Linked DNA regions of Homo sapiens: region 1 is linked to region 2. Evidence: fine-mapped expression QTL. A gene starts in region 2. The other region holds a variant in brackets. All regions are shown on one strand. Distances are between the middles of the regions. Region 1 overlaps PXN (paxillin). Region 2 holds the start of GCN1 (GCN1 activator of EIF2AK4).

What was found. PIP is the estimated chance that this variant, and not a neighbour inherited with it, causes the effect.
Region 1: its variant is the best candidate, but not a certain one, in a credible set for the expression of GCN1 in liver (GTEx, PIP 0.56).

What each region holds. Positions count from the first base shown.
Region 1 is chr12:120,220,756-120,223,654 of GRCh38, forward strand. It overlaps PXN (paxillin), which reads right to left. Exons shown (of 15, transcript NM_001385981.1): 4 at 2,108-2,244; 5 at 1,794-1,995; 6 at 868-1,003. It overlaps LOC124903034 (a long non-coding RNA gene), which reads left to right. Exons shown (of 3, transcript XR_007063487.1): 1 at 1-170; 2 at 560-2,899. Among named protein-coding and RNA genes, the nearest start is that of PXN-AS1, 21 kb to the left of the region's middle. The variant C/T (reference allele first, on the strand shown) is at 1,439.
Region 2 is chr12:120,193,279-120,196,177 of GRCh38, forward strand. GCN1 (GCN1 activator of EIF2AK4) reads right to left here and starts at 1,437. Exons shown (of 58, transcript NM_006836.2): 1 at 1,402-1,437. The coding sequence starts at 1,419. RefSeq lists a silencer at 1,145-1,734.

The DNA.
Region 1 (2,899 bases), 27 kb after region 2:
ACCCCAGCCACACTCCTGTCTCCCACCATGAAACCTCAGCTGAAGGGAGGCTAGGAGACACCATCAGGGCCAAGGGTGCAGGGACCGTTCACTCCCCTCTCATATTCCCTAGGTCATGCCCCAAAGGTCTCCAGCTGACCCACGTGGAAGTATGAAGTCAGCAGCTGCTGGTGAGTTCTGTCAATATCAATCCCCAAGGAAACACTGAATCCTCTAAATTAAACATCTCAGGCCTGGCAGGACTGGGGAGGCCCAGCAGGGGAGGGGAAGGGCAGGTACCTCGTGCAAGCCTGGCCCCATGGTTTCCCACAGACACGCTCGTGGGAACTCAGAGGCCCTGGAGGGCGAGAGGGAAGGATGGGAGAAGAGTAGCAAGGGAGGCTTGTGGATTCAGGATCAGAGGCAGAAAGAAAGAGGATGTGTTGAGGACAGCTAGCGTGGGAGATGGGGCTCCAGGGCAAATGACCTCCCAGGCACAGGCTCCCAAGTCCCACATGGCCCAGCAGAGAATGCCCTCCCCCACCCAGAGCAGCCATCAACACAAGGTTCTTTGTCCCAGCGTCCCAGCCTCCTGATCCCCTCGACCTGAGAGGCTGGGAGCACCCAGGGAGGAAGGAATGTCCCAGCTGAGCACTTCTCCAGCTTGTCTGCCTTCACTGGCTACTGCAATCCTCAGGCAGGCTGACCCGGCCCTCCCTCCCCATCTCCTGGCATCACAGCAAGGCCAGGGCATGACAGTGTCCCTGGCTCAGGGGCAAGGCACCCAAACACTGAGATGCCAAGATCCAGCTACCCACACTGAGGTAAGGGAGGAGAAGGATGAGGGAGGGGCGGCAGGGCAGGGAAGATGGAGGGTTCACAGGGCACCTTGAAATCCGACAGCGAAGCCATCAGCTCGTCCAGCTCCCTGGTGGCAGAGGAGGCCGAGATGCGTGTCTGCTGTTGGGTGGAGGTGACGCGCTGCGGGCTGCTCATCTCGCCCTGGTTCACAGTGATGGCAGGGCTGCAGGGTGGGCACAGCATCAGTGGGGAGCCCACAGTCAGCCCCACACTTCCCGGGGATCAGATCGACCTCTCACCTCGGACACTGGGGTCTCACCATCCCCAACCCCAGGGAGGTCCACCAGCTCCCTGTCTCTCCTGGGGACCCATCACTGGGTCAGAAGAAAGGGCAGTTCAATGGCACCAGGAAGTGCCAGGAAGACTCCTCTAGCCCCCAGCCCAAGTGAAAGCTGGCCTGCGAAACAAGCCCAAGCGCCCTGTGTTTCCTCCACAACACTGGACATGGAGGTGAGGCTACTGCAGTAACACGACGGCACTGGTAAGAGCTCGCGTGTTGGGCACTCACCATGTGTGCCACGCACTACACACCAGAAACCATTCCAAGCGCTTTACATGGATTACTGGTTCTCACCCTTACTGAGGTAGGTGGTCTTAT[C/T]CCAGTGATCCCATAAGTTCTTGTCCCATTTTACAGATGGGAAAACTAAGGCTTGAGAGCTGACAGTAACTGTCAGAGCCAAGATGTGAACCCCACTGTGTGGCCCCAAAGCCTGTGCTAAGAGCTGCTAAGCTCCAGGCGCCCTCAGCCTGCACAACGTCTGTCCTTTCTGACTGGCAGTGACTGGCTGAAGGCAGGGATGGTGTCCATGTGACTCACCACTATCCCCCCAGTGCCTGGCAAATGGCAGACACGGGAGGGAGTGGGTGATACCAGGGCTAAGGGGACAGACACTGGACCCGGGGCAGGCTGGGCCAGCCCTTCCCCACCTGGGGAGGGCCCAGTGGGTACTCACACGGGGCTGGGCACGGAGCTCTCCAGTTCATCCAAGAGACTCTCCACACTGGGCCGCACGTCCTCCAGGCCCCGGCCCCCATTCCGCTTAGGCTTCTCTTTCGTCAGGGGCCCAGCTTTGCCTCCCAAGGGGCTGTTAGTCTCTGGGACACCATAGAGGGGGCTCAGGGCCCCAGGAAGCGGGGGGCTTGAGTTGGCCTCATCTTGCAGAGAGGAGAGAAAAAGGCTGCTCAGCCCTTGAGCCCTCCTGGGATCTAGAGGTCAGCAGATGGGCCCTGGGCCCTGGTAGACCCTGCCCCAGGGACCCGGTCCTACCTGCAGGGAAGCCTGGCGGGTTATGCTGTACAGCGTTCAGTTCCAGCAGCAGGCGGTCGAGTTCAGAAAGGTTGCTGCCCAGGGACGTGCTCATTACGGTGGGTGAAGGCTCAGCTGATTTCTGCTTGTTGGGGAAGCTTTGAGAGGCAAAGGAAAGAAGATAGTGAGAGATGCTTTCTGGCCTTGTACTGGCTTGGCAGTTCCCAGATTCCCAAGGAGAACAAGGCAGAGGAGATGCGAAGTCTTCCCCCGCAAGAGGACAGAGGGTAGGGAAGGGATGTGGTAAGAAGAGGGGAGGAGGCCGGGCACAGTGGCTCACGCCTGTAATCCCAGCACTTTGGGAGGCTGAGGCGGGCAGATCATGAGGTCAGGAGATTGAGACCATCCTGGCTAACACGGTGAAACCCCGTCTCTACTAAAAATTAGCCAGGCGTGGTGGTGGGTGCCTGTAGTCCCAGCTACTTGGGAGGCTGAGGCAGGAGAATGGCGTGAACCCAGGAGGCGGAGCTTGCAGTGAGCCGAGATCGCGCGACTGCACTCCAGCCTGGGCGACAGAGTGACAGAGCGAGACCCCGTCTCAAAAAAAAAGAAAAAAAGAAGAGGGGAGGAATGAAGTCTTGCTTCAGTTCCTCAGCTACACGGAGATGCTGTGATAGCCCAGAATGTCCACTGCATGGAGATGGCACTGATGAGGTAGACGGGCCCACCGACAGGCCTTCTGCAGCTTAAACCAGAATAACCCCACAAGGCCCAGTTGCTATGCCTGCTCCCGGGCCTCCGCTGCCTCCCACC
Region 2 (2,899 bases):
AAATGTGGCTGGTACAAGTGAAGAACTAAATTTTTTTTTTTTTTGAGACAGAGTCCCACTCTTGTTGCTCAGGCTGGAGCGCAGTGGTGCGATCTCAGCTCACTGCAACCTCTGCCTCCCAGGTTCAAGCGATTCTCATGCCTCAGCCTCCTGAGTAGCTGGAATTACAGACATGCCACCATACCCGGTTAATTTTTTGCATTTTTAGTAGAGACGGGGTTTTGCCACGTTGGTCAGACTAGTCTCAAACTCCTGACCTCAACTGATCCACCCGCCTTGGCCTCCCAAAGTGCTGGGATTACAGGGTGAGCCACCACGCCCAGCCAAACAATGAATTTTTTTATTTAATTTAATTTTAACAAACTTAAGCCATGTGGCTGCCATACTGGACATTGCAGCTCTAGAGATTTTTCCCTCAAGTGAGTATCAATGTTAAACATTCAGCATGTATTCCCCTAACCCTCTCATACTAAGCTTTTCTTTCTAGTATTCAGTACAACATAACTTGAACATCAGCCACCTGCATAGGAGTCTCAGTAAATGTCTTTTTGAATGCTTAAGTGGTCATTTTCTGGGCCTACACATAAAAATCAATCCCATCACCCTGGAGACACCAAATCAGCCCAGCTGTCCTTAGACACCTGTTCTTCCCCTGCCTCATGACAATGTCTTTTCACCTTAAAACATAACAACTGGGTGGAGGAAAAGGTTTTCCCAGGTCCTTCCTGAACTACAAGGTACCCATAGGTAACACTCTTCCTGGACAGGACAGTTCTTTTCACTAACCCTGGATCTGATAACAACCAACATATATCAAGCCGTATTTTATCTCACTGAACCTTCACAACAACCTTTTAAGATAAGTATTGTTTTAACTTCATTTTATAGATGAAAAGGCAGACTTGGCGGGGTTAAGTCACTTGTTTGGCATGTCACAGAAATCGACGAGCAGGAACTCAAGCCCAGATCTGTATGAATCCAAAGACTACACTCAAAGTCCCTGCTCATAGTAGGTGCTCAAAGAATATTTGCTGAATACAAAGTTTAAGGAAGACTTGGCGTTGGCCCGGGGCTCACAGCCGGAGGGCTTTGGAGAAAAGAAGTAGAGGCTCGGTAAAGTGAACTTCTGCAACTCTGGGGTCGGGCAAAGGCCCCGCCGAGCTCCAGCTGCTGAAGTCGAGGCGGGAGCCCCGGACTCCTCGAGCCCGCGGTCTGCCTGCGCCGCCCGGGCCGGGCCAAGCCCGCAGCCCTGAGAGTCCAGCCTGAGACGGCCCCGAGACTACGACCTCCACAGCCACCACCTCCAACGCCCCTAAGCCGAGGAGCGAGAGGGGCCCCGCCCGACGGCCACCGTCCGCACCCAGTCCCTGGCCGCGTTGGCCCCGCAGCCGCCCGCCTCACCTGCGTGTCCGCCGCCATCCTGCCGGGGCTGACTCCGGAACCGCTTCCGGAACGCTTCCGGGTCACAGCGTGGCCCACGCGGCAGGGCGAGGCCGGGAGCCAGCGGGGGCAGGGCCCCGGGCTTGGTGCCCCCGGGCAGGACGGCGGCCGCTGCAGCCCGGGCAGCCGGATCACGGGCTTAAAGTTGGCCCGCGCCCGAGCCACAAGGCCTCCTCCCCAGGGCCCGCTCTTCAGCCCCGGGCGCCTCGTGGGAGACTAGCGCTTGTAACGTGGTGAGCCCGCGGTGTAACGCTATGGGCCCGCCTTGCAGCCCCTGACCCACTTCCAGCCCGCAGGGCCAGCCCTACGTGGGCCTTTCCTGAGTGATGACTAAGTTCTTTAGAAAAACAAGTGTTGCTTCCTAGATAGCAGGAACTAAAAACTAGGTAAAAGAGTCGGTGAACTAGTCTTTTGTCCTCAGTTTGTAGTTCAGTTGGCGGATGACTTGTACAGGGTTAGCAAACGTGGCTGGATACGGAGGTCAGGGAAGGTTCAGAACTGAACGAGGCCCCTGCCCTGGGGAAATGCTGGACGCCCCAGGCTGGGAGTTTTGAAGGCCACAGGGCAAGAGGCTACGTGCAGACGTGGCTGCAATTTAGGGAACAGGGTCTCCACAGCTTAGTTGTCAGCCCTGTTAGCAGTGGCTTTCAAACCTTTGACACAGACCTAGTTAGAATGAATATATCATGTTCCAGCAGACAGATCTCTAAGTGAAATACAGGAATCACAACAAAAACACCTATTCTCAGCAGATGCTGCTTTCTCTTTAAATACTGGGGCCAGGCATGGTGGCTCACGCCTGTAATCCCAGCACTTTGGGAGGCTGAGGTGGGTAGATCAACCTGATGTTAGGATTTCCAGACCAGCCTGGTCAACATGACAAAACCTTGTCTCTACTAAAAATACCAAAAAAAAAAAAAAAAAAAAAAAAGGCCGGGTGCGGTGGCTCACCCTTGTATAATTCCAGCGCTTCGGGAGGACAGGGCGGGCAGATCACAAGGTCAGGAGTTCCAGACCAGCCTGGCCAACATAGTGAAACCCCGTCTCTACTAAAAGTACAAAAATTAGCCGAGTGGTGGCACATGCCTGTAGTCCCAGCTACTGGGGAGGCTGAGGTGGGAGAACCGCTTGAACCCGAGAGGCAGAGGTTGCAGTGAGCTGAGACCATACCATTGCACTCCAGTCTGGGTGACAGGACGAGACTGTCTCAACAACAAAAAAATTAGCCCGGTGTGGTGGCAGCCTCCGGTAATTGCAGCTACTTGGGAGGCTGAGGCAGGAGAATCACTTGAACCCAGGAGGCGGAGGTTGCAGTGAGCCAAGTCCAAGCCACTGCACCCCAGTCTCAAATATATTTGAGACTATCTCGAAAATATAAATTGGTTACCACCGAGTTGGAGCACCACCCAGTTTGAAAAACTTTACTCTAGGGGACTGGCCCCAGCATCCACCAGGTGCC